7 linked regions of the Homo sapiens genome follow. The protein of the gene in region 2 interacts with the protein of the main gene of each other region in a pairwise test. Each region holds a gene or a part of one and is shown on either strand. Other genes may lie near its edges.

Region 1 (4,240 bases), on a different chromosome or scaffold from region 2:
TTTAGGAACACCTTTTTATTTCCCCCAATATAATAAAAAAGGCAAAGAGCTCACTTTGTTTTCATTTAACTTGAGACCAATATACCTTTCATCATACCCAATGTAAAAGGCATGGAAGCAAGTTCCTTTAAAAACATTTACAGGCAAGTAAATATGTGTGGCAATTAATTAAAATTGCAACATGCTGATTGATAGAATTATAATTTCTTTGCCTGTCATATCAACACCTTTAACTTCTTTTAACTAAAAGAAATTTTTTTTTTCAAAAAGGAAATGCCTCTCAAGGAACTTTTCAATCTTGATGAGAAGTTATTACTATGGGAAAAGGATACCATGTTTATAATGAAAGTTCATATGTTCTTCAACTCAGGGTTAAAGAAAAGAAAAAGTTACCTTTGATGTATGCATATTGGTCAAGAAATCTGCTTCTAATGCTTTCATTTCCTCTTCTGAATCTGAGTAAAATCAAAATCAGGTTTACTATAATTACATATCATATAATTATATCATAATCTACAGATTTTAGGTTAATCTAAAAAAAAATCTTAGAGGTTAGTGTCTTTCTTATGTATTTTCTTAAAAATAGTAATCCTAAAAAACAAATTATAGTTATACTTTAGCATAATAGGAAGCTAAAATAGTAGAAGCACTTCTAAGAAAATAAGCATATGATTATTTTTCAGACAGCTATTGATCACTGGGAGTTGTTTAATCTTTGAATTTCAGGCTTTAAAAATGTGATTACATTGTATAACACATATTTTACCAAATATGCTAGAGTAGCTTATTTCTTACCAGCCACAGTTTACATATATAGAAAATATGCATATTAACATTTAAAAACACAACATAATGAAGACTATACAAGAGACTTTTTCAAGACAAAACCAAAGGGAATTGCTTACTGATAATTTTAGAATAATAAAGATACTGAGGTTTACTTAACTTGAGATGTTTTTTACAAAACACACGTTGAAAGAATTGTATTGTACTTTAAGAGAATTCAAAATTATGTATCCTCAATTTTTTCATAGGCATTTAAGGAAATTGTTTAAAGCAAAAGTGGAGCTGTTCAACAACACATGTACAACAGCATTGAAAATGGATCTCTGGATTTTTAAAAAACTCTATCCAAGTTTCTGTTAATGAATATTTTACAGAGAAGGAAAATTTGGAAAATACTATACAATAATAAAAATAAAGTTAAAAATGACTCTATCTTCCTTGTACTACACACTCAGTAAAAAGAAATGCCACAATTGGAGAACCCATTGGCTTAATTTTACCTAGAACCTAAATTATACAAGAGATCTTTTCTCACTATTTGTTAGAGACATAATCTGTTTTAGGAATTTATGAACAATGTATACCAAAATCCTTATAACTATTGCATTATTACAACAAGTAGTTTCAAGTTAATAAACACAGTGCTTAATCAATAACCCAGTTTTTCTTCCAGAAGTATGTGAATCTTTAATCTCATATAACTTTCAGATAAAATCATAATTATAGAAAAGTTTGTTTTTTCTCATAAGATTTAAAAAGTAGAAGCTGAAAGTTATGTTCTGATGATTAAAATAAATTTAAAATTTTGTATAAATCACATTTATATCTTCTTAGATTTTAATTTCATAATTTAAATCAAATGATAGCATGAGTTTGAGTTAAACATTTCCATGTCATATTTATGATACATAAAAGCACAGAACAGGTTAAATTATTTTTGCTGCATTTGCTTCCTAATGTGTTCTTTTCCCTTTGAAGTGTTCATTGTAATATTTCTTAAATATTAAGTAGAGCCTTTTGCAATGGTTGTAATATTTCATGTTATACCTTTCAATTTAAGTCTTATTTTCAAAGTGAGTTATTCGTAGATACTTAGGACTATATAACTTCTTTCAAACCACATGCAAAACACTCTAAAGTCAAATAATTTCCATCAATATAAGAATACCAATTTTCCAATTGTATTTTGTATTAACTTAAATGGCATGGAAAAAATGCCAAACAGTTATATTAATAGCACACTTATTAGACTATGCAAATTCTGTTCTCAAAAAGGATCTGGAATATTTTTGTATTTTTCTAGAAATAATTTTCTACAAATAATGCTTCATTTTTCACTAAGTATCAATTTTCACTTTATTTGTTATCTTAACACAAACAAGAAAATAATACGGGGACTATTACAAGGGCGTGAGGGCCACCGCTTCCTAAGAGAATGAATGAGGATGAGAGTAAAACATTTTGAATGGAATGGGATTTAATGATGGGTTTGCAGGTTGACAGCCACTGCCTCTGTATTTCTCATTAGATAATGATCAGCCTAATTGAAAGTTTTGTAGGGTTTTTTTCCCTCTAGTTGTTGAATTCCAAAGGAGGTCGTGCAGTGTTTCATTGAAATCCCTTTTATTGCTTTGCAGATTTTAAAAGAGAAAATACATCTCTCAGTAATCATAAAGGCAGAGAAAGAGATACTCAGTTTCTGTCACTAAAAGGTAAATCCTGAATAAAAGGGAGCAACTCTTCTCCCCAGATACATTAACATAAGTAGCAACACACTGCAAAAGAGAAAAAAGAAATCACTTCAGGGAGTTGTGAAATTCTGTTTTGCTTACCTGAGCACAGACTCCAGGAGCTGAAAGCCAGGAGTAGCATGCATACAAGCTGGATTTTCATTCCTGCCATCATCTTTCAGCCTTCTAACAAGCCAAGTCCGTAAAAGTCAGAAGCACACTGAAGGGGGCTCTCTCTAGCACTTCCTCTTTCCTTCAGCTGGCTTTGAAAGTGAGTGAACTATGAGAGGTGCTCTGGCCATTCCCCTATATATATAAGCAGGAGGATGATGTCATTGATTGTACAGACATTATCTTTGCAGGATGTGCCCTATCTTCACCTCCATCCCTCCCCTCTTTGCCCTGCTTTCTCCTCCCCTTTTCCTTTGTCCCCCCTGCTCTCCTCCCCCATTTCTGAACCTTGAGTGAAAGTGACGATCTTCCCTAATTGCTGCTGCTGCTGCTTTGGATTTCTGACGCACAGAAGGAGTCATTCAACTGCACTGACATACAGCATACATACAGCATACTGACAAAGAACCCCCAGTATCATCCTTTTCCCACTTCTCATTCCCCCACTCCAAAAGTTGTCATTTTGATTTTGTGAAACATGAGATCTGTTATTTCTAATTTTTAAGGAAAATCTCCAGGATGAATGCATGAAATCAGTGATTCCTTAGGCTTGGAAGTTCTTGAAGAGTTAGGGTGCTTCTCTGGTAATTCAAACTTCTGAGCAAATGTTTAGTGGTTCCAAAACTAATACAGGTTTTAAATAATCCATGCTGGAATAAGATGGAATAGAGACAGAGAATCAGTTATAAAAATTAAGCAATTAAGTTTAGAGAATAGAAAGAAAATCAATAAAAAGAAATAATAGATCCAGGGAATAAGATATTATTTCCTAACAAATAGAAAATATTTTATTGTAAGTAATGAGAGATGACTGAACTATGTGTGCTGACTTTTGGTTGAATGTATTAGAAAAACAATTTCATGTTTATAAAATCCAGCTCTAAATTACTTACATTCTAGCAGGTAAAAATTTGTGTTGTTGTATCACTGACTTTTTTTCTGTACATTATCTCTTTTTATGCCTATATTTTTCTGCTCTTTTTGAATTCATTCTTGATGCCATGTCTCACTCTTTGTATAATTCCCTTCTCAACAGTTTTTACTATTGCATCGGCTTTCTTTCCCTGTTATAATACTCTTTTCACCATAAAAAAAGAGATTGTACTTTTGGAAAGGAGACAATCCTAAATAACCACCATTCACCAAAGTCACTTTTCTATGATAGTCTTCATGTATTTCATGAGTTACACTGATACCCATTCTTTGTCTGAGTTCTCAAAAGAAAATTGTTCAAAATGCCTTTTAGAGTAAAACTTTCTTCTTGTAGTAAGCATTTCAAGATACATGGGGTAATTTGACAAGTCAGTGCTGTTAGAGATGTGAATATTTGAATGTAAAGTTGTCTGAGTCTTGTTTAATTTTTAAATAAATCAATCATGTAGTAACAGTTGAGAAAAAATAGGATTGGTTCCTATAGATAATTGATTTATATTATACAATCTATGAGTTTAACTTTTTCACCTTTACCCAAAACTTAAGCAAAGCGATTAAATCCAAACATTTAATAATTACTTAGAATAGCAAGGAGTCTTTCATATAATACCAGAAATTTA
Region 2 (3,500 bases):
AAATGTCATGACTGATTATTCACTGTTCTTAGAGAGAAGCAAGATGTACTCATCGAGGAAAGCTGTAGAAACAAGTTCAGCTACAAACACAGGCATGGCTACGACATGCAACATGCCCTGCAACACACAAATTCCGCCAAGCATTTACCCTGGTAATTACGAAGTCTCAAAATTTACCTGACGTTGTCATGATGAGGATTAGAAGTGGCGGCAGCAGACCCACCACGCAACACAGGTCTAAGGCAGGTTTTTGCGGGAGAAGGCACAAGACAGAATCAGGAAACAGAGAAGTAATAAAATAAAAGCAAAAACAAGACAAATAAATGTCAAATAGGATTATATTGTATATTTCAATACAATATAATATCTCTCAACTACTTTAAAAAATCCTTGTCTCATGTGTCCTCCATTTTATCATTTTCATAAACTCAACATTACTATTGATCAAAGAAACAAAGGGAATCTATATTTACACGACAAAACAGCACCAACATATAAAATAATTTTCTTGGTGCTTTACTTTATGAAATTTAAGACAGAGGACAACTCTGCTTAAAAAGTGTAATTCCTTTCTTCCAGTTGGAAAAAAAAAATCACTAGCACCTTTAAAAGCATATCAGGACCTGGTTAGCTGCACCGGTATGACCACAGTTGCTCATCTGATATCAACAGCTCTATCTCAAAAACCGTATTCATAAATTTCAAGAAACTCCATTTCCCACACTTCCTTCCCTCCCACCTCATTAATTTTGAGTAGTGCCTGATGTCTCGTTGCAGCTGTGTCTCATTCAAACTCTCAGCTCTCCAGAGTGAAAATGCAAGCCTCCACTCTGAAGCTGAGATCAGGAGACGTGCTAGAGCACATTACAGGAAGGGCAATCCACAATTTGAGTCTGATCTTGAGACAGCCAGGAGTGACATACAGGGCTGCTGGAAATGAAGACTAAGGTGCAATGGGAAACTTGGTGGGGATTTCCACTCATTCTCAGTATATACTTTGGCGCTAGAGGACAGTTAGCTTTCTACTTTGATAAGCAGTAACCTTTCCAATACGTTTTATCTTTTAAAATCAGAAAACAAAAGCTTCTAAGTGTTCACTGGTCAATTCCCCCTAAAACAATCAGCAATATTTACTAAGCAGAGAAAGGAGACTGGAGTGTTGGATCCATATAAAGATTTGAAGAATTATTAAATCCTATTTTGGATATCTCATTCTCTAAGTAACTGATCTGGTTTTGCCTGAATTTAAGTATCAAGACAATAATTATATAATGGTAAATGTTTAATACCAAATGCACTAATTTTTTCTGTAAGTTGGCACAGCTGTGGAATTTTGACTACAATACAAATTATTTTCTGATAATTCAATTCATGTAAGAAAATTCTAATGTTTAACTTCTACATGTCTTAAAGGTACTACCAGTGCTTAAAGAAATTTCTGGAGCCTAGATGATAAGGGATTCAGAGACTTTTTGGGGGAACATGTTTGACTTTTATTTTACTGGCTAAAAAACATGGAGAAATCACATATGCTTAAGACAGGTCTTTAACTCATCTCATCCTACTAACATATTTACTCTGTGGCATTAGGAAACCTGTTATTTAACTACAATCTTAAATTGCACTAACATGAAAATGGTTAACTAGATGAAGCCATCACTGTGTGCTTCCTAAAGCTTTTTAAAATGCACACAGTATGTTCAAATGGGTCTGTCATATTCAACCTATTCCACCACAGAGATTTCCCTTTTATAACGCAGAGCCAGAAAATAATACAGTTACCTTTCACAACGTATTTCATTTTGTCTTCTCACACTGGCAATTGACACATATATTGTAAAAGTAAATTAGACAGGTATGTGGCAAAGTTAGAAACTTCATTCAAGTACCATTTTCTACGATAAGTATGATTTAATACATAAAATCTTCTCAACAGTATGTTTTGTAGAGTGGCAAAAGGGAAAGAAATCCAAGGCTACCACCAAGCTCCGCCATTAACTTGCGTACTGACATTTTTTGAGTAAATACACTCTGACGTAACAGAATATGTGTTTCTTTGCTATAAAAATGTAATCTGCTACAGAAAATAAAGTTTAATTGGGGATCAGGAATTATACACTTTTTTAAAGAGAAAAATTATAAATAACAAACGCTGTATCCACTGCAACTCTGGATTTCTAGGTCTTCCAAGCTGTATATTTATAGGGATACTTGCCAAAAATATAAATTATTCATACATTGGTTTCTTATTCTATGCACTCAAAGCTGGTACAATCTGTTAAGGAAAAACTGCATAAAAATAATCAAGCCCCTCGTAAAAATGAGAGCTAAGCATGACTCATCTATCAATATTTAAATAAGGTTCTTACACAGGAACTAAGTTTCTTTTTGAAGATGCGAATATTTTACATTGTAAAATGAGATACATAGCTCTAACAGATACAGGGAGAGACCGGCATTTTCTAACCAGTTAAGGACCAAATCATAATAGTATTTTAATTTCTGCTGCACCTGAGCAAATGACACACCTGGTGCTTTGGTAAATTTTCAGTGTATCAGTTCTCCAAATGCGTAACACTCACCTGTGTAAATAAACTTTTCTAACATGTACCTAGGATTTAACTTGGTTTTCACGTTGAGTTTGGTTTAGATCATCTACATTCTTGTAAGAAAAAAATATATGGTACACAAACCTTTTGACAGCGTCCTTTAAAATGTAAACTGAACACAGTTCTTATGTCAAGGAATTGTGAATCTGCATTACTTCATAGTGATAAAGCAAGCAGAAAGCTTTTTTCTTTTTCTGCCAAATAGTTCTAGTTTAAATTAACTACACCTAATGTGATGGCATATGACCAAAGATAAGGTATTGCATTAGCATAATAGCCAAGAGTAATAAAATAGAAAAGAAAAAATGATCTACAGAGCAAGGAACATAGAAGCACTTAAAATTTTATAAGCAGTATTATTTTATAATCATGCAAGTAGAACATTATCCAAATTTCACATTCCTATTTCTTATATCTGAAAAGTCATGCCAGATACTTCTCACAAAGGAAATAAAAACTGATTTGGCACTTAAAATTCTGATAAAATCTTGCTCAACACTGAGATCCTAAGTGAATACAACTTTAAAAAATCCTTTCAATACTGAAAGCGTCAATAAGACTGATGAGAATCTAACCCTCCAAGCTCCAAGGTAACAACTAATGCTACAGATCTAGGAGAAAAGCATTATTAATATAACTCCTTCATGAACTTTTAAAAACTTACTGAAATGAATGAGAAAAGAGAATTCCTTCCCAGAAAAGGGATTTTAGAGTTATCAATTCATCACAATGTAAAAAAGTGAAATAAAATTTCACTGAAAGTCCAAAAATATTTTTCATTATTAAAAAAATACAAAGTTTATACTAATACGATTTTTGATTTTATACATTTGACTCTGAGGCACAATTTTTTTTCCATTATGGAGGAAAAAATCCATATTTTTATAAGTT
Region 3 (3,500 bases), on a different chromosome or scaffold from region 2:
CTGCTATAAACCAGAAACTACAAAACAATTTCTTAAATGACCTGATTTTCCTAAAAACCTTAAAAACATTAGTTCCAAATACTGAGAATATATTTGGCCCAATTCCTTTGAACTCTGTCTTTAGATTAATGACGAGTTTCCTTTATTTCACTTATTCACTAGTTTAGTATGAAATAAACAGAGTTTGAATCAGTTAAACTGGCTAATGACAATTTTCCTCAATGATTTTTCTTCTGCATAGGCATGATAATGAAATCACAAAAGGTCTTCAACTAGTCTTCAACTATTCTTACACTATATAATCAATTAGGGAAATTTTTACAGACAAATGAAGAGAACACAAGTAGCTTTACAGTAAGTTGAGCCTGTTACATATATTTGTTCTGACAAAGAATTTCTGACACAAAAATTGCTCACTGCACACAGAATCTCAGAGAAATGATGAAACAAGACAGCTGATGGTAGAAGGTATATGGGAGCAGGGTAGGGTGAAAAGTCACAAATAAATTAAAAACTGGCAAGTACTTCTGAAGCAGAGCCACTTTTTAGGGGACACAAGAAAAACTGTTAAATCACCATTTTGGTCTCATCAGGGAAGTCCATTTGTTAAGAATTGAAGACCATTTTACTATAATTCATGCTGCAAAACACAGCAGTCACACAGTATTTCCAAAAGGATTCCAAAAATTGTAGTGCAAAAGAAAAGAAATCTAAAAAAATAAATAATCACAAAAACCACCAACATTTTTCAAGGAAATGTGTTCAAAACAGTGGCTTTTACAAAAGATGTGGATTTGTTTTAAATGAAAAAAAAAATAATTCCTATATGAAATACCAAAGACTCATTTCACATATAACTTACACTGCATTAATGATTGGATTAACAGTATATAAACAAGGGCCATGGTTTTTTTTACTAAAGTAGGTCTGAAAGATCAATATAAATACTAATGGGGGCAGGGAGGAGTGTTTTATACCCCAAACTCCAATATTCCAGCTCTGTGTCCTGTCCTATTATTATAATTTGTAAAAATCTTAACGACGCAGTGATTCGAGTTTTCGTAACTTCAATGATGTGTTAGAGGACAATGCATCTTGGTTTGAAGAATTTGCTGTATCCGAAGGCCGGAAAAGTACTCGACCACGATGATTAAATACATAAAAGGATGGGTGATTCCTTAACGTATCAAATGTCCTTGAAAGAAGAAAAAAGCATCAATTTTAGATAAACCTTTATAAAACCCTACTTGAAAATAAGTAGGCTTCTAACGAATTATCAATTTACTATGGGTTATATTTTTTAACAAGTATTAATACATGAAATCAGACTGTAAATAATAATTATACTGTATCTCTTTTCCTATATAAAGAAAATAAGAAACCTGGAAAAGCAGCATATAGCTCTCAAATTTCTTCTTTTTAAAAAAAATAGAGATAGGGTCTCATTCTGTTGCCCAGGCTGGAGTGCAGTAGCACAATCATAGCTCACTGCAGCCTCAAACTCCTGGACTCAAGCGACCCTCTCATCTCAGCCCCCCAAGTGCTGGCACTACAGATGCGCACCACCACACATGGCTTTCTTTTATTATTATTTTTTGTAGAGACAGGGTCTCCCAATGTTGCCCAGGTGGTCTCAGACTCCTAGGATCAAGCAATTCTCCTACCTCAGCCTCCCAAAGAGCTGAGATTACAGGTATGAGCCATGATGCCCGGCTTCTAATATTTTTTTTTATCCAGCCATTCCTTCCAGAATGCCTATGAATAACAACACAAATACTAGCTCAACTATTAATCTCCCCTGTAAATCTAACAGTAACGCATGTCGAATAGTCTTTTTAAAAAAGCAGCACATAGATTACAGCTTTGATTATTCTCATTTGGCCCTCATTATTCAAGCCATATGATCGTTTCACAGATCTGTTTTCCAAGAATCTTTCAAGCACAACAAAAAATTCCTTTTGGCCCTCTGTACCTGCTATTGTCCAAACACATATTTTTCTACCACCTACTTAATGACATTGTTTTACTTCTTTCTTTCCTGGCCCCTTGCCTGTGATTCTTGGTAGACTCTTTGTAAGAGCAAGCAGTGATGACAGTAAAGTATCCTTTCTACTTTTCCAGTGAGAGATATGTAGTCTAAAAGAGTTCACAAACACCTTGGTGTGTGGCCTTTATGGTTTTTGTTTTTCAATATTATTTTCCTGGAAAGGATAGGAGAACTCTTCCTTTGACAAAAACTCAAATCTCAGCCCACCTAAACATCCAAGCATACTCCCATACAAAAAAGAGGCCTGATATGTAACTCCTTAAAATGTACATATTGGGTGGGGCACGTTGGCTCACATCTGTAATCCCAGAACTTTGGGAACCCAAGGCGGGTGGATCACTTCAGGTCAGGAGTTCGAGACCATCCTGGCCAACATGGTGAAACCCCGTCTCTACTAAAAATACAAAAATTAGCCGGGCATGGCGGCAGGTGCCTGTTAATCCCAGCTACTCAGGAGGCTGAGGCAGGAGAATCACTTGAACTTAGGAGGCAGAGGTTGCAGTGAGCCAAAATCATGCCACTGCACTCCAGCCTGGTTGATAGAGACTCTGTCTCCATAAAGAAAGAAAGAAATAAAAATAAATAAAATGTACATAATGAACTAAAAGGGGGATATGACTTTCCTCTAACACATAAATGTTCACTGTGACTCCTTCTAAGAAAATATTGTAAAGGGGCATCATGTCCAGGATCAAGAAGGTGGGTAAAGTCCAGAGATGGAACTGAACAAAGCTAAAGGATGATTTTAGGAAAGTAAAAATATGAAAAATAAAAGCAAACATAGCTCATGAAAATAGCTTAGAAGTAGTCCAGGAGAAAAAAAAGAAAGCAGAATAACAAATATACTTTTAATCCAGTAGTAGAAAAGGGCCTGGGAGCAGAGCTTATCTCACATACTAGGTTCAAGTGAGAGGGGAAACCGAAAACCACTTACTCTTCCAAAGACTAAGCTGGGACAAGAGGATAGAAAGAGGATGGTAGGAAGAGAGGGATGGAAGGAGTGAAAGGGGGAAGGGAGGGGGGAAGAAAGGGAGCAAGGAAGGAATGGAAGGAGAAAGGTTAAAAATTCTGAGGCATTATTTTTCTATATATCTATTTTCATCCATACAACCAACCAATAATTTTAAGCAACGTATTTTTTTGATTCTACTGTGAATAATCTGGCATTCATCTTCCATTTTCTTACAGTATCAAATACCGCCTCAATGTTTTTACCTCATTATTCATACAAACTGTGTAATCAAAATGCAGAAACAAAACCAACTTTTATGTATCAGAAAACATACTTTTTAAAATTATGTGAATACAGCAAACCTCTATGAAATGCAATGCCTATGAAAAGAGAAAGACTTACTTATTTTTCAGTTCTGAAGTGGCATCCATGTCTTTAAACTCTCCTGCAATATGAACTATACCGTAACAGGTAACTGCAAAGGCCAGAAGTGTCTGAAGA
Region 4 (3,500 bases), on a different chromosome or scaffold from region 2:
AAGATTCAAACCCATACAGACAGATTTCAGAGGCTGTGCTCTTAACCCCTTCCCTCTACAGCCTCTCATGACTCCGAATCTCAGAATTGCATCATCGTAAAAAGCCTTCATGGAATCCGGAACCTTGCCATTATTGGAAGTTCACTTTGTGCCTTTGTAACTTATCTGTTGTAGCCATCTGTTCTCCCTCTCTCTTCCACATGGATTGTCAGGCTTTTCCCATAGAGAAGCAGATGATGATGGGATATTGGATTGAGTTGGGAGAATGGGAAAGGCATTTCAGTCCCCAAGTCCAGCTGGGGTGGAGGGAAGGGGTTGTCCAGGTTGCCTCACTCTTGCTGAATCAGGTCACAGGTGGAATTGGAAGGGAGTAAAAAGGCATTGGCATTGAGGGTGAGGTGGTGAGTAGAAGATATTTTGAAAATGGGAGGATTTCATTTAGAAATCTTTTATGAGAGAAAATTTGAATTATTGATCTTCCTAATTGTCTTTCAGTATTCCAAGAAAGTCCACTTAACTTGGAGGAATGAAGTTTCCCACTGATAAACTTCTTTAATCCTGTCACACTCAAAACTTCAGAAACAACCAGAAAGCCACTATCTTCCTTGTATTTTTGTTTTTATTTATTTTATTTTTTGAGACAGAGTTTCACTCTTGTTGCCCAGGCACTCCAGGCTGGAGTGCAATGGCGCCATCTCAGCTCATTGCAATCTCTGCCTCCTGGGTTCAGGCGATTCTCCTGCCTCATCCTCCCAAGAAGATTGGATTACAGGCTTGCGCCACCACGCCTGGCTAATTTTGTATTTTTAGTAGAGACAGGATTTCTCCGTGTTGGTCAGGCTGGTCTCGAACTCCTGACCTCAGGTGATCCACCTGCCTCGGCCTTCCAAAGTGTTGGGATTATAGGCATGAGCCACTGCGCCCGGCCTCTTCCTTGTATTTTTAAAGAAAATGCATTGTCATGACCAGAATTTTCCCTTGGTTGGTTGGCTGATGAGAGTGTATATATAAATGCATGTATTTCAAGTCTTACTTTTCATTCTTTCCTGAGTTGTGTATCTCTTTTTCTCACCCCCATCTCCCATAGATTGAGACTTTCTGAAAGCATGGATTGTTTAAGTATGGCTCCCTCTGCAACACTTGATATTCTTAGAAGCAGATTTTTAAGCTATTAGTAAAAACTTTTAAGATATGTGACGATTCATTAAGTGCTGTCAGACCTCTTACTGTTTTTATCTCCACAGCTGGTTTCTCTGTGGCAGTGCCTTGTTGCTTGTCAGTTTATCAATTGCATTTTACTGCATAGTCTACCTGGAATGGTATTGTGGAATTGGAGAATATGATGTCAAGTATCCAGCCTTGATACCCATTACCACTGCCTCCTTTATTGCAGCAGGAATTTGGTAAGTTAACTTTGAAATGACTAACAGGAATGAACAACAAATTTTTTTTTTGATCAGATAGTGATATGCTTGGTCCAAACTTCGAAAGAAAAAAAGTTAAAACAGAAAAATAGTCTCCTGGTCATTCATGCTCTCTGGTTCCCTTTTGATTAGTATCTCTTTCTCCTTCTATTTATGGATCTAGTTATTTAAAGCACAGATGGTGACATTCTGTACATATTCTGCATTTTGCTTTTTAAATCTATTTTATTATGACATACAGTACATATAGAAAAGTGAAAAAAACTGAGATGAATGAATTAGTGAATGAATTCTCATGAAGTGAGCATTGGTGTAAACTGAGCCAGCACACTGGGAACCCCCTTCATTCTCCCTCCCAGTTACTACACCTTCCCTCCTGCCACAGGTAAATACTGCCCTGACCTTCATGGTAACTACTTGCTTTGCTTCCATTAGATATTCTATTTTTGTTTCAGCTACGCTTTTGAACTTTATAGAAATGGATTTGTACAGGGTGTATTCCTTCACATTGAGCTGGCTGTGTGCAGCATTGTGTGCAGTTCTTTCATATTGTCGCCGGGAACAGTGACTCATCTTCATTGCTCTTTAGCATTCCATTGTTTAATTGAATCCCAGTTTTCTTTTCCCTTGTTGATTGTGTTTAGATTTTTTTCAGTTTGGGGTTACTATGAAGGATGCTATAAAGAGCATTCTTGTACATGGCTCTTGTAGCACAGTGAACACATTTCTGTTGGGTGTAGAGATGTATGTATATATGTATATATATGTACCCCAAGGGGTAAAATTGTTGGATGTACGTACCTTTGACTTCAGTAAATCATGCCAAACTGCTTTCCAAAGTGGTTGTTTGTCCTTTTCTCCTTTTGTTTTTCAGTGGATCCTTATAGTTTGGGATTCTTCCATAATGGTACATATAGATGTGTCTCATTTTTTTAAACAGTTGCATAGTTTTCACAGCATGGACATAACATGATTTATTTAACCTGTCTTCTGTTGTTGGACTTCGTTATATTTATACCCAAACAATGCCACAATGAATAACCTTCTTCATAAGTTAATTAAATACTCAATGAAAAATACAGGGTTTTTTGGGTTTATAAAAGTAATACTTGCTCACTGAGGAAAAAAAATCTGTAAATTACATGAAAACACAAAGGAAATATATCCTATGATTCAACCAGAAAGAAAACTACTTTTCCTATGTTGTGTGCAGCTCTCTAGTTTTTTCTTTCTTTATATCAATTGGATTTTTTTTTCTTTTTGGAGATAGGGTCTCACTGTGTCACCCAGGCCGGAGTGCAGTGGCATGATCACAGCTCACTGCAGCCTCGACTTCCCAGGCTTAAGTGATCCTCCTGCCTCACTCAGCCTCCCGAGTAGTTGGGACCACAGGCATGTGTCACCACATCTGGCTATTTTTTGTATTTTTTGTAGAGATGGGGTTTCGCTGTGCTGCTCAGGCAGGTCTCAAACTCCTGGCCTCAAGCCATCTGCTTGTGTTGGCCTCCCAAAGTGCTGGATTACAGGCGTGCGCCACCACCCCCGGCCTAATTGAATTTTTATTTTGGAAGAACCATATACCTTTATACATATTCTTTCTATGACTTATTTTCTGTAGTTGAAGTTCAAGGTTGTTTGACAGTGTGATGTGGTTATTGTTAACCTGTATGTGGGGGCATGCAGATACGTTGTTTTACTTTTTCCCATGAGGGTAAGATCATGTCCAGAAATGTTAATTTTTTAGACAGTGTGATTTGTGATTATAGTTATTTAATACTCATACTTATCAAACTATTATATATTAAAACCAATAACCATCTGAACTTATTTGAATATAGTTTTCCCTATTCTGTTCTTAGAAATTTCAGTCATTAAAAATCTTTATACTTAGTGTTTTAATTTTACTTTGATGACAGGAATAGTGTTTTTCTCAATGAAAGATATAATAGCAGCTTATAAGTGATAACTGTTTTCATTCTGTTTTTAAGAGACAATATTTTGGTCTTTTTTACCATGATAGTTTAGTGTGTGATGTCATAAAAATGGGCTGTAGCCATTTAAATTATTGTTGAAGTC
Region 5 (3,500 bases), on a different chromosome or scaffold from region 2:
CACTGAGTTTGAGGGATTAACTAGACCACGAGTGGGGAGCTCCCGGATGGAAAGGATAGCGCGTGTCGAAGCTGGGAGGCAGGGCCCCTACCTTCTGCATCAGCCTGTTGGGGGCACCGGAGACAGCCAGGATGGCTCAAACACAGCGCGCAGAGTGCGGCTGCAGGGTTGCTGGGTCAGACTGTGCAAGACCCCCTTGGCCACTGTAAAGTTTGGATCTCAGTTTCAGCCACTGGAGGATTTAAGCAAGGAGGTGACCTGATCTCCTTTACATTCTGAAAAGCTTGCTGTAGTTCCATCGTGGAGCAGGGACCGGGGAAAGCAGTCCCTCACTGCAGGGAGCCAAATCAGGGATGGCAGTGACTGCGCATGCCTTGAGGCCTCTTCCCTTGGACCTCACGCTCCGGGTGTATGAACCAAAACCAGATGTGTGTTTTCTTCTTCCCAATCAGTTGTTGTTCTTGATTTCTTTGTTCTTGTCACTTGCTCCGCTCTTCTCATAATCACCCTGATTTGACAATTCACGGTCATTCATACTGGCCTCTGCTCCAGGCCATCAGAGCCTCAGTGTGGAGCCTGCCTTGATGCATGGAGCTTCTGGGCCCAAGTGTCCTCCCAACTGTGATCCCACTGGAGCTTCAGGAGCAGTACCTCTTCCTAAAACACCTCTCATCCTCTCCCTCATCTCCTCAGCTGCCAGCCCCTCCCTGTCATCTTAGGGTGAGCCCAGGCCCTGGAGTGCCAGGGATTGCCCCTTCGCCCCATCCCAGCCTGTGCCTGCCTCCTCATTCTCGTTATCTTCTCCTCATGTTGCGCAACATAAACCTTCACCCAGCCAGGACCAAGTCTTCAGCTGATCACCACACAGGCACCAGAATAACCAAGAACTAGTGAAGCTCCTGCCCAGGGGAGCTTTTGGTCAACCTGAAGATGTTTCTGGAGCAGAAATCAGTGAAAAGATTTGTTCTTCTGCTTCTGGCAAGAAGATGGACTAAGATATTCTCACATACACACACATACGCATACACACACACACCCGTATCCCTACCTTCTCACTGCAGATGGACTAAGATATTCACACACACACACACACACACACACACACACACACACCCCTACCCCTGCCTTCTTGCTGCAAGCATCTTGAAATGTGAGGTAAAATAGTGTAACTCCACCCACCCACAAATGTTAATGCAGGGCTGAATTTACAAGGAAGAAAGGAAATCCCTAGATGAAAGAAATGAAGAGCGCATTGAAGGCCAGCGCCTAAGTGGGCGAACTGATGCTGCAGGTGGGTCATCATCATGATGATGGAGAGCAGGAGCTAGCAAGCCTCTGGAAGAGGCCAGGTCGTAAACGGTTTAGGCTGTGCAGACCACAGACGGTGTCACATCTCCTCCTTTTACCTTTTTGACAACCCTCTACAAATATAAAAACCATTGTTAGCTCATGGGTTGCACAAAAACAGAGCACAGCTAGATTTGGCCCATGAACCAAAGTTGGCAGAGCCTTGAGGTAGACTAGGATGAGGTTTTCATCTACAGGAAGACGGGGGAGAAACCTTGGGGCCCCAAGAGAAGCGTTTCTCAAAAGATTGGATCATCAGAGAAAGAGCCCATATCAGAAAAATGCAACCACAGTCACAGGTAGATGACAAAGAAGCTTGCCCTAGTTTTTTTTTTTATTTTCGTTTTCTTTTTTTTTTTTTTTTGAGACAGAGTTTCACTGTTGTTGCACAGGCTGTATTGCAGTGGTGTGATCTCAGCTCACTGCAACCTCCGCCTCCCGTGTTCAAACGATTCTCTTGCCTTAGCCTCCCAAGTAGCTGGGATTACAGGCACCCACCACCACACCTGGCTAATATTTTTTTTTTTTTTGAGACAGAGTCTTGCTCTGTTGCCCAGTTTGGAGTGCAGTGGCGCAATCTCGGCTCACTGCAAGCTCCGCCTCCCGGGTTCACGCCATTCTCCTGCCTCAGCCTCCCAAGTAGGTGGGACTACAGGCGCCTGCCACCACGCCAGGCTAATTTTTTGTACTTTTAGTAGAGATGGGGTTTCACCATGTTAGCCAGGATGGTCTCGATCTCCTGACCTCATGGTCCGCCCGCCTCGGCCTCCCAAAGTGCTGGGATTACAGGCGTGAGCCACTGCGCCCGGCCAATTTTTTAAATATATTTTTAGTAGAGACGGGGTTTCACCATGTTAGCCAGGCTGGTCTCGAACTCCTGACCTCAGATGATCTGCCCGCCTCGGCCTCCCAAAGTGCTGGGATTACAGGCATGAGGCACCGTGCCCGGCCTATTTTTTTAAATATATTTTTAATAGAGATGGGGTTTCACCATGTTGGTCAGGCTGGTCTCGAACTCCTGACCTCAGATGATCCGCCCGCCTTGGCCTCCCAAAGTGCTGGGATTACAGGTGTGAGCCACTGCACCCAGCCACTTGCCATACATTTTTAAGTCTCTTCAATATTCAAAACCATGGTGCAGTGCCCACATGGGTTGAGCTTAAGATTGGTATGGCCTGATCCACATTGAACCCTGAGGATCTGTGGAGGGGATTCGGGAAGCCCGTGAACTTGGACCGGAAAGCAAATTGGACTCTTATGTTCACAAATGTCTAATTGAAATTTAGCATTTTCTTTGCTCACGAACATATGCCACAGACTACCGTGGCGTTCAGCAGTCCTGATGGCTGTGCAACCATGTGACCCTGCACACGTGGCTCTCCCTGTTACTTTCTGAAGCATTTTCATGGACCTCTCCTCCTCTGCTACCCACCTCTCTCGTGGGGCCTTGGCAGCTCAAGGACTCTTCAGTGAGCAAACCTTTCTTGAGTGCTTACTTTGTAGTAGGGCGCCCCTTCTCTGTTATGCTATACCTTGTCGCCGCTGGTACCTGGCACGTGGTAAACACTCGTTAAATACTGGGCAAGCGAACATGGGAGACAGTGAGCTCATTGCACTAAGTGAGGGCTGCATTCTGTGGGGCCCACTTCATCAGCATCAGGTGAAGGAACAGGCAATGGTCAGTGCAGACACACGACCCAGAGGAGGCAGGGCGGGGCTGGAAGGCAGAGTGGCACCCAGCATGGGCTGGCTAGGAGGGCCTGTGCTCTCCAGCCAAAAACGTCAGGAAATGAAACTAGCAAATACTAGCAGAAAAAGTATATATCAAAACAAGCACCTCTATCGGTGAATATTTTTACAAATGGGTGACTTAAGGATCTTGGACTCAAGAACACAAAGTGAAGCCATGTGGAGAATGGAGAAATGGGTTCTAGAATGCTCTCCTAAGCCCTTTGCTTTATCAATGCGTCATCAATGCATAATCTGATTGGGTAGTGAGGGTGGCTGTCGTCAGCAGCTTGCGCCCTCCCTTGTGGTCCAAGGTGTACACAGATGCTAGAGTTAGGGGCCTCACCCCCTCCTGGCTTGAGTGCTGCCTGGGGGGGCCTGGCCACACCCAGGCCCCTGCCTTCTGCACTCAGCATCCTGCAAAG
Region 6 (3,500 bases), on a different chromosome or scaffold from region 2:
GCTGGGATTACAGGCGTGAGCCACAGCACCTGGCCAACCACACACCCATTAGAATGGTTAAAAGTAAAATAACTGACAAATACAATGTATCAATGAAGATGTGAAGAAACTGGAAAACCTACATTGTGGTGGGAGTATAAAATTATATAAACACTTTGGAAAATGCTCTGGCAGTTGCTTAAAAAGTTAAACAGACATATAACCTAGTAATCTCACTCCTAGCAATTTTACTACTAGGTATTTGCCCAGGAGGAATAAAATCATATGTCCACACAAAGATTTGTACATGACAGTTCCTAGCAGTTTTATTCATAACAGCCCCAAACTGGAGACAACCCAAATGTCAATCAACAAGTGAATGGATAAACAAATTTTGGTATGTTCACACAATGAAATCATAAGTTACAAATCACTGATAACACAGAAAAAATAGATGAATCTCACAGATATACTGAGCAAAAGAAGCTAGACAGAAGAGTACGTACTATAGTGTTAGAAATAAAATGAGTGTGTATGGGGACAACACTGGTAGAAATGTTCTACAGTTATGTGCCACATAATATGGTCAACAATGGACCATATATATGATGGTGGTCCCATAAGATTATAATACCATATTTTTATTGCACCTTTTCTATGTTTAGATGCACAAATACTTGTTACTGTGTCACAACTGCCTACAGGTTTGTACAGGTTTATAGCCTAGGAACAAGAGACTATACCGTACAGCTAAGGTGTGTAGCAGGCTATACTACCTAGGTTTGTGTAAATATACTCTATGATGTTTGTGAAGGGGTAAAATCAACTAATGATGCAGTTCTCAGAATGCACCCTCATTGTGAAGTGACCCATGACCGTATATTGATTGTGATGGTGATTATACAGATGAGACATTTGTCAAAACTCACTGAACTCTACATTCAAAATCTGTACATTTTATTGTCCCTACATTTGATTTCAATTAAGTTGATTTAGAGAAAAAAATGTGACAGCAAAATATTGAAAAACCCAAATGTTTATCAATAGGATACTGCTTAAATAATGATCCATATAATAAATCCTATGCAGCTGTGGTGAAGGAGGAGGAGGGATGCCAGTTATTGCTATGGAAAGATCCCTGAGATACACAGTTAAGTGAAAAAGGCAAGACACAGATGAGTGTGCATAGTATGTTATCTTTTGTGTAAAAAAAGAGAAACTACATTCACTTTGGCTTGTACAGGCAAAAAGAAACTAGAGGGATACACAAACAATGGGAGTTAACTTTAGGAGGCAGTGAAACTGGGCAGAGGGGAAGGTGGCTTTTTACTATATACCTGTTTGACCTACTTAAAAAATGAAAAAAATTACCTAGGTTCCAGGAAAGGGGTATCTGTTCTAACTTCCCTATACCACATTCCCAATCCTTCCAAATTATATTTAAAATGTGAACAAAGCTATAAAACAGACCTAATTCCATACTCTGCAGCCATGAAAAACATTGAGGCAGATCCTAGGGTACGGTTAAGAGTACAGGCCACAGGCCGGGCATGGTGGCTCAGGCCTGTAATCCCAGCACTTTGGGAGGCTGAGGCAGGCGGATCACCTGAGGTCAGTAGTTTGAGACCAGCCCGGCCAACACGGCAAAACCCCGTCTCTATTAAAACTACAAAAATTAGCCAGATGTGGTGGCAGGTGCCTGTAATCCCAGCTACTCAGGAGGCTGAGGCAGGGAGAATCGCTTGAACCCGGGAGGTGGAAGTTGCAGTGGGCTGAGATCGCGCCATTGCACTCCAGCCTGGGTGATAGAACGAGACTCTGTCTCAAAAAAAAAAGGAGTACAGGCTATAGGGTCACAGTGCTTGATTTCAAATCTCACCTGTGCCACCTAACTTTATGACTCTGTGAAAGTTACTCCTCTGCTCCTGTTTTCTCACCTCTAAAACAGGTTGTTGGGAGGCTTAAAAGAGAAATTACATGTAAAGCACTTAGAATAATAAGCACTCAATAAATACTATGACGACTACGAGGGCAAATCAACTAATAGAATACTATGACTCTATTTCTGTATATATTTGTACATATTTGTATATATAAGTATATACATGTTTGCACATATAAGTATATGCACGGAAGATGTAGTATTCAAACAAATTATTGGGATTGAAAGAGTTTAGCCTACCCTAACTTAAATGTGTTCAGAACATTTACGTTAGCCTACAGTTGGGCAAAATCATCTAACATGAAGCCTATCTTACAATAAAGTGCTGACTATTTCATGTAATTTATTGAATACCATACTGAAAGTGAAAAACAGAATGCTTGTATGAGTACTCACATATCACTTTCACACCATGGTAAAGTCAAAAAATTTTAAGTCAAGCCCTAGTAAGTCAGGGACTGTCTGTAAATTGCTTCAATGTCATCCCTCATCTTCAAACATGTCAGTGGTTTTCTATTACCTTTTGGATCAAATCCAAACTACCTACCAGACCTTGCATGTCCTGGGTCCCGCCTAGCTCTCTGGCCATTCTTGTCCTTCATTCACTATAGACACAGCTTCTTTCAGTCCCACTAATGTGCCAAACTCTTGCTTGACTTCAAATGCTGCTGGAATGCTCTTTTCTGTATTCTTTCCAAATCAGGTTCATGACCATCAGCTCAATTAAATGTTATCTTCTCACAGAGGCTTTCCCAGATCACTCTTATTAAATTAAATCTTTCCTGATTTTTCTTTCTCAACTCATTTGTTTTCTTCATAAAAGTGCCATAATTTAAAATTATTTCATCTGTCTGTTTTTGTTTTGACTCCTCTAGAATGGTAGCTTCAAGAAGGCAGTATCATGGGATATTTTCGTTTTGTTTGTTTGGAGACAGGGTCTCGCTGTCACCCAGGCTGGAGTGCAGTAGTGCTATCTCGGCTCACTGCAGCCTCGATGTCCTGGCCTCAAGCCCTTCTCCCACCCCTGCCTCCTGAGGAGCTGGGACTACAGGCTCATGCCACCATGCTCGTCTAATTTTCGTATTTTTTGTAGAGATGGGGTTTTGCCATGTTGCCTAGGCTGGTCTCAAACTCCTGAGCTCAAGTGATCTGTCCACCTTGGCTTCCCAAAGTGCTGGGATTACAGGCGTGAGCCACTGCACCCAGCTTTGTTTTGTTTTTAAGACAGAATCTCACTCTGTCGCCCAGGCTGGGGTTCCATGTTTATGTTTATTTTTATACACCACCAGGGCCTACTACTATATAGAACTTAACAAATATTTGTTGGGTTAATAAAATGTTATCCCATTTATGAGATGGTTCCTAAAGTAATATTCTCATTTATGGTGACAGTTTCTAAAAACACATATAGGCCGGTGCCGTGGCTCACACCTGTAATCCCAGCACTTTGGGAGGCCAAGGTGGGCAGATCACTTGAGGTCAGGAGTTCGAGACCAGCCTACCTAACATGGTGAAACCCCATCTCATAAAAACTAGCCAGGTGTGGTGGGAGGGACCTGTAGTGCCAGCTACTCCAGAG
Region 7 (3,987 bases), on a different chromosome or scaffold from region 2:
TATAGTCTCGCTCTGTCCCACAGGCTGGAGTGCAGTGGCGTGATCTCGGCTCACTGCAGGCTCCGCCTCCCGGGTTCACGCCATTCTCCTGCCTCAGCCTCCCAAGTAGCTGGGACTACAGGCGCCCACCACCACACCCAGCTAATTTTTTGTATTTTTAGTAGAGACGGGGTTTCACCGTTAGCCAGGATGGTCTCGATCTCCTGACCTTGTGATCCACCCATCTCAGCCTCCCAAAGTGCTGGGATTACAGGCTTGAGCCACCACGCCCGGCCAACTCATCTATATATTTATGATCTGCTGAGGTGGAAAAGATTCATTCATAAAGCCTAAAGTGTAGTACTGAGTACAAGTGCAGGTGGAACTTAAAGCAGAGTTGGTGTCACTGGGGTGGGCTGCACAGAAGAGGTGTTTGTGAGGTAGGCTGTGAGGGCTAGATAAGACTTCAATGAACAGACAGGAGGAAGACTGTGGCGACTTGTTGAGCTAAGGGTAGGGGTAGGCATGAACATGGCGTAAGGACAGTGAACAGACCCACCTCCCTGGCTGGAGGTCTGAGTAGGAAAGGCACACTCTTTGAGTAGATTCAACACAAAGAAATGGAGGCAGCCTGGCTCAGGGATGCCCTAGACCTCTAGGCATTGTCAAGTTGCCTAAGTCCTGTTCCATCAAGGCTGTTTACTGATGTGCTTCCAGGGCACTCCCCACTCCCAGCCCTTTCCTGCAGCCCAGGGCTGGTTCCTAGCCTCTCAGCAGACTTAAGATGGGCACCTTCCACAAAGGGGCAGATGAGTTGAGGAAAACTTAACTGATACAGTTGTGCCAGAAGCCAAAATAAGAGGCGTGCCCTTTCTATAGCCCCATTAAAAGAACAAAAAAGTGGAAGCATCTTCAGTGAATATGGGTCAGCACCTCCCAGACCTCAGGGAGTCCACTTCTGTTCATCCCAGCACCCAGCATTGCATATCCAGATTATTTGAGCCCAATCTCTTATCCTCTGAAGAACACAATCGGCTTTGGGGCCACAAAAGGTTTAGGTAGTGGTTTAGGGATTTCTAATCCCAAACTTTGTCCTTGGGAGGTTTAGGATTAGTATTGATCATTCACAGAGCCCAAGTGTTTTTAGAGGAGGGGTTTTGTGGGGTGGGAGGATCACCTATAAGAGGACTCAGAGGGGGGTGTGGGGCATCCATGAGAAAAATGTCGGAGGAAGAGTTTTATCTGTTCAAAAATATCTCTTCAGTGGGGCCGTGGGATGGGCCTCAGTACCACATTGCCCCTGTCTGGGCCTTCTACCTCCAGGCAGCTTTCATGGGCACTGTCTTCCTTATAGGGTTCCCACTCAATGCCATGGTGCTGGTGGCCACACTGCGCTACAAAAAGTTGCGGCAGCCCCTCAACTACATTCTGGTCAACGTGTCCTTCGGAGGCTTCCTCCTCTGCATCTTCTCTGTCTTCCCTGTCTTCGTCGCCAGCTGTAACGGATACTTCGTCTTCGGTCGCCATGTTTGTGCTTTGGAGGGCTTCCTGGGCACTGTAGCAGGTACTGCAGGGGAAAAAGGGGTTAGGGGAAGGCAAAGGTTGCTACTCCACTGGAGGGGGTTCCTAAAGAGGAGTCTGGGGGAAATGAGTCTGGTGCTTTTTAAAATACTGGGGTACAAAGCAACCCAGACTAGAAGTTTGGCTAAAATAGGATGTTTGAGTCTTCACTCCAAATGTCAGTCCAGCCCTGTCTCTCTGTGCTTGCTCCACCCGATCTGTTTGCCACTCTGCCAGCCAGGCTGGGTGGGGCTCTGTCTAGCCCATTATCCTCACATTTCACCACAGGTCTGGTTACAGGATGGTCACTGGCCTTCCTGGCCTTTGAGCGCTACATTGTCATCTGTAAGCCCTTCGGCAACTTCCGCTTCAGCTCCAAGCATGCACTGACGGTGGTCCTGGCTACCTGGACCATTGGTATTGGCGTCTCCATCCCACCCTTCTTTGGCTGGAGCCGGTGAGAGTGCAGGGCAGTGGTGCTGAGTTAACTAGGAGCTCAGGTTGATGTGGGTGGAAAGAGAGCTTGGGTATAACTATTTAGTCTTTGACCTCTACTTTTAAAGAGTTGCAATATGAGGCGAAAGGGCAGTGGGAGACAAGTGCTAACGTTTACTCTGCAGTTGGAATTGCTGTAGCTTCTCCCAGTCAGGACAGAAAACCCCCCTGCTTGAAGCCTTAGGGCATTCCGTGGGTTCTAAGTGGAGAACACAATCCAGGCATCTCAGCTCCCACTGCACTCTTGTGGAGAGTCCAGTGAGCAAGTGTTTGGTCCTTTGCAGGTTCATCCCTGAGGGCCTGCAGTGTTCCTGTGGCCCTGACTGGTACACCGTGGGCACCAAATACCGCAGCGAGTCCTATACGTGGTTCCTCTTCATCTTCTGCTTCATTGTGCCTCTCTCCCTCATCTGCTTCTCCTACACTCAGCTGCTGAGGGCCCTGAAAGCTGTGAGTGGCATTTGATAGTCAGGGAAGAAGGGGTTCGGGGCTCCACATGAGAAGGAAGAGTGCTCTGAAACATAAGATGCCTGGAAATGTCCATAGCCAGAGAGGGTATCTAAAAGCAGCAAAGGAAGTAGGAGGAGGGAGAATGATGGAGATCCAAAGGAACTAGGCCAGGAGATGGGACAGAAAAGAGGCAATCAGAGTGGATGCCCCCTCCCCCATCCCACAGAAAAGCATCCAGAGACCGGGCGCAGTGGCTCACGCCTATAATCCCAGCACTTTGGGAGGCCGAAGCAGACGGATCACCTGAGGTCAATAGTTCCAGACCAGCCTGGCCTACATGGCAAAATGCTAAAATGCGAAAATTAGCTGGGCATGGTGGTGTGTGCTTGTAACCCCAGCTACTCAGGAGGCTGAGACAAAAGAATCACTTGAACCCGGGAGGTGGAGGTTCAGTGAGCCGAGACTGCACCACTGCAACTCCAGCCTGGGCAACAGAGCGAGACTCGGTCTCAAAAAGAAAATTAAAAATTAAAAATTAAAAAAAAAAAAAAAAAGCATCCAGAGGGCCAGGAAAAAGAGAGATGTGATGCTTTCCGTGCTCCACCCCAGGTTGCAGCTCAGCAGCAGGAGTCAGCTACGACCCAGAAGGCTGAACGGGAGGTGAGCCGCATGGTGGTTGTGATGGTAGGATCCTTCTGTGTCTGCTACGTGCCCTACGCGGCCTTCGCCATGTACATGGTCAACAACCGTAACCATGGGCTGGACTTACGGCTTGTCACCATTCCTTCATTCTTCTCCAAGAGTGCTTGCATCTACAATCCCATCATCTACTGCTTCATGAATAAGCAGGTAAAGCTCTTTATTCACATTCCTATGGTCCAGAAGACCCTGGTTCTTTTCTCACCATTGACTTTTAACTCAGAGCACCCTGGACTCTACCCAGGTTTCTAGTAGACGAGGGAAGCCACAAAACCCCCGAGTAGGTTGGGAAGCCTTTGGTAAGCACAGGGAGGAAGGCACGGTTATCAAGACGAGAAAATAGAACCCCGGAGGAAAGAACTTGAGTCAGGAAAATGAAGTTGCTCCAAAGAACAGGATGAATGAAAGCATTTTATTGAAAAACTCGTGCAGCAAACCACCATGGCACACGTTTACCTATGTAACAAACCTGCACATCCTGCACATGTATCCTGGAACTTAAATAAAATTAAAAAAATAAAAATAAAAACTCAGATTCCTCTCAATTTTCAGTCCTTGCATTTAATAATTTCTTAATCATTTCCCTTCCAACTTTTAGCCTGCACGAGCATGTGTGAAGCACAGAAATCATACCACATGCAAAAATCTCTAAAATATCTTATCATCTGAAGGTACTGGGGGATTTCCTATCCCATCTGAAATCCGAGCTAATAAACACCAAACCCTAAGTGGCAAAAACCCTACTTTCAGATGGTATTGTTTCCTCAATCCCAGAGGTAGACTCAAAACTAATTTGAAACCTCC

The links.
Region 1: the proteins of MFF (region 2) and NTS interact in binary tests that used the Homo sapiens proteins (3 or more experiments, as listed by UniProt).
Region 3: the proteins of MFF (region 2) and MMGT1 interact in binary tests that used the Homo sapiens proteins (3 or more experiments, as listed by UniProt).
Region 4: the proteins of MFF (region 2) and TMEM128 interact in binary tests that used the Homo sapiens proteins (3 or more experiments, as listed by UniProt).
Region 5: the proteins of MFF (region 2) and STX8 interact in binary tests that used the Homo sapiens proteins (3 or more experiments, as listed by UniProt).
Region 6: the proteins of MFF (region 2) and CYB5B interact in binary tests that used the Homo sapiens proteins (3 or more experiments, as listed by UniProt).
Region 7: the proteins of MFF (region 2) and OPN1SW interact in binary tests that used the Homo sapiens proteins (3 or more experiments, as listed by UniProt).

The regions. Positions count from the first base shown.
Region 1 is NC_000012.12:85,872,855-85,877,094, reverse strand, and holds the start of NTS (neurotensin/neuromedin N preproprotein), read right to left. Parts: upstream 2,801-4,240; 5' UTR 2,692-2,800; coding exon 2,619-2,691; intron 456-2,618; coding exon 394-455; intron 1-393. UniProt on the Homo sapiens protein: Neurotensin may play an endocrine or paracrine role in the regulation of fat metabolism. It causes contraction of smooth muscle.
Region 2 is NC_000002.12:227,349,251-227,352,750, reverse strand, and holds part of MFF (mitochondrial fission factor), read right to left. Parts: intron 238-3,500; coding exon 178-237; intron 1-177. UniProt on the Homo sapiens protein: Plays a role in mitochondrial and peroxisomal fission. Promotes the recruitment and association of the fission mediator dynamin-related protein 1 (DNM1L) to the mitochondrial surface.
Region 3 is NC_000023.11:135,963,989-135,967,488, forward strand, and holds part of MMGT1 (ER membrane protein complex subunit 5), read right to left. Parts: coding exon 3,402-3,500; intron 1,196-3,401; coding exon 1,036-1,195; 3' UTR 1-1,035. UniProt on the Homo sapiens protein: Part of the endoplasmic reticulum membrane protein complex (EMC) that enables the energy-independent insertion into endoplasmic reticulum membranes of newly synthesized membrane proteins.
Region 4 is NC_000004.12:4,238,224-4,241,723, reverse strand, and holds part of TMEM128 (transmembrane protein 128), read left to right. Parts: intron 1-1,244; coding exon 1,245-1,403; intron 1,404-3,500.
Region 5 is NC_000017.11:9,250,821-9,254,320, reverse strand, and holds part of STX8 (syntaxin-8), read left to right. Parts: intron 1-3,500. UniProt on the Homo sapiens protein: Vesicle trafficking protein that functions in the early secretory pathway, possibly by mediating retrograde transport from cis-Golgi membranes to the ER.
Region 6 is NC_000016.10:69,431,119-69,434,618, reverse strand, and holds part of CYB5B (cytochrome b5 type B), read right to left. Parts: intron 1-3,500. UniProt on the Homo sapiens protein: Cytochrome b5 is a membrane-bound hemoprotein functioning as an electron carrier for several membrane-bound oxygenases.
Region 7 is NC_000007.14:128,772,995-128,776,981, reverse strand, and holds the start of OPN1SW (short-wave-sensitive opsin 1), read left to right. Parts: upstream 1-1,187; 5' UTR 1,188-1,200; coding exon 1,201-1,543; intron 1,544-1,827; coding exon 1,828-1,996; intron 1,997-2,318; coding exon 2,319-2,484; intron 2,485-3,093; coding exon 3,094-3,333; intron 3,334-3,581; exon of another isoform or gene 3,582-3,987. UniProt on the Homo sapiens protein: Visual pigments are the light-absorbing molecules that mediate vision. They consist of an apoprotein, opsin, covalently linked to cis-retinal.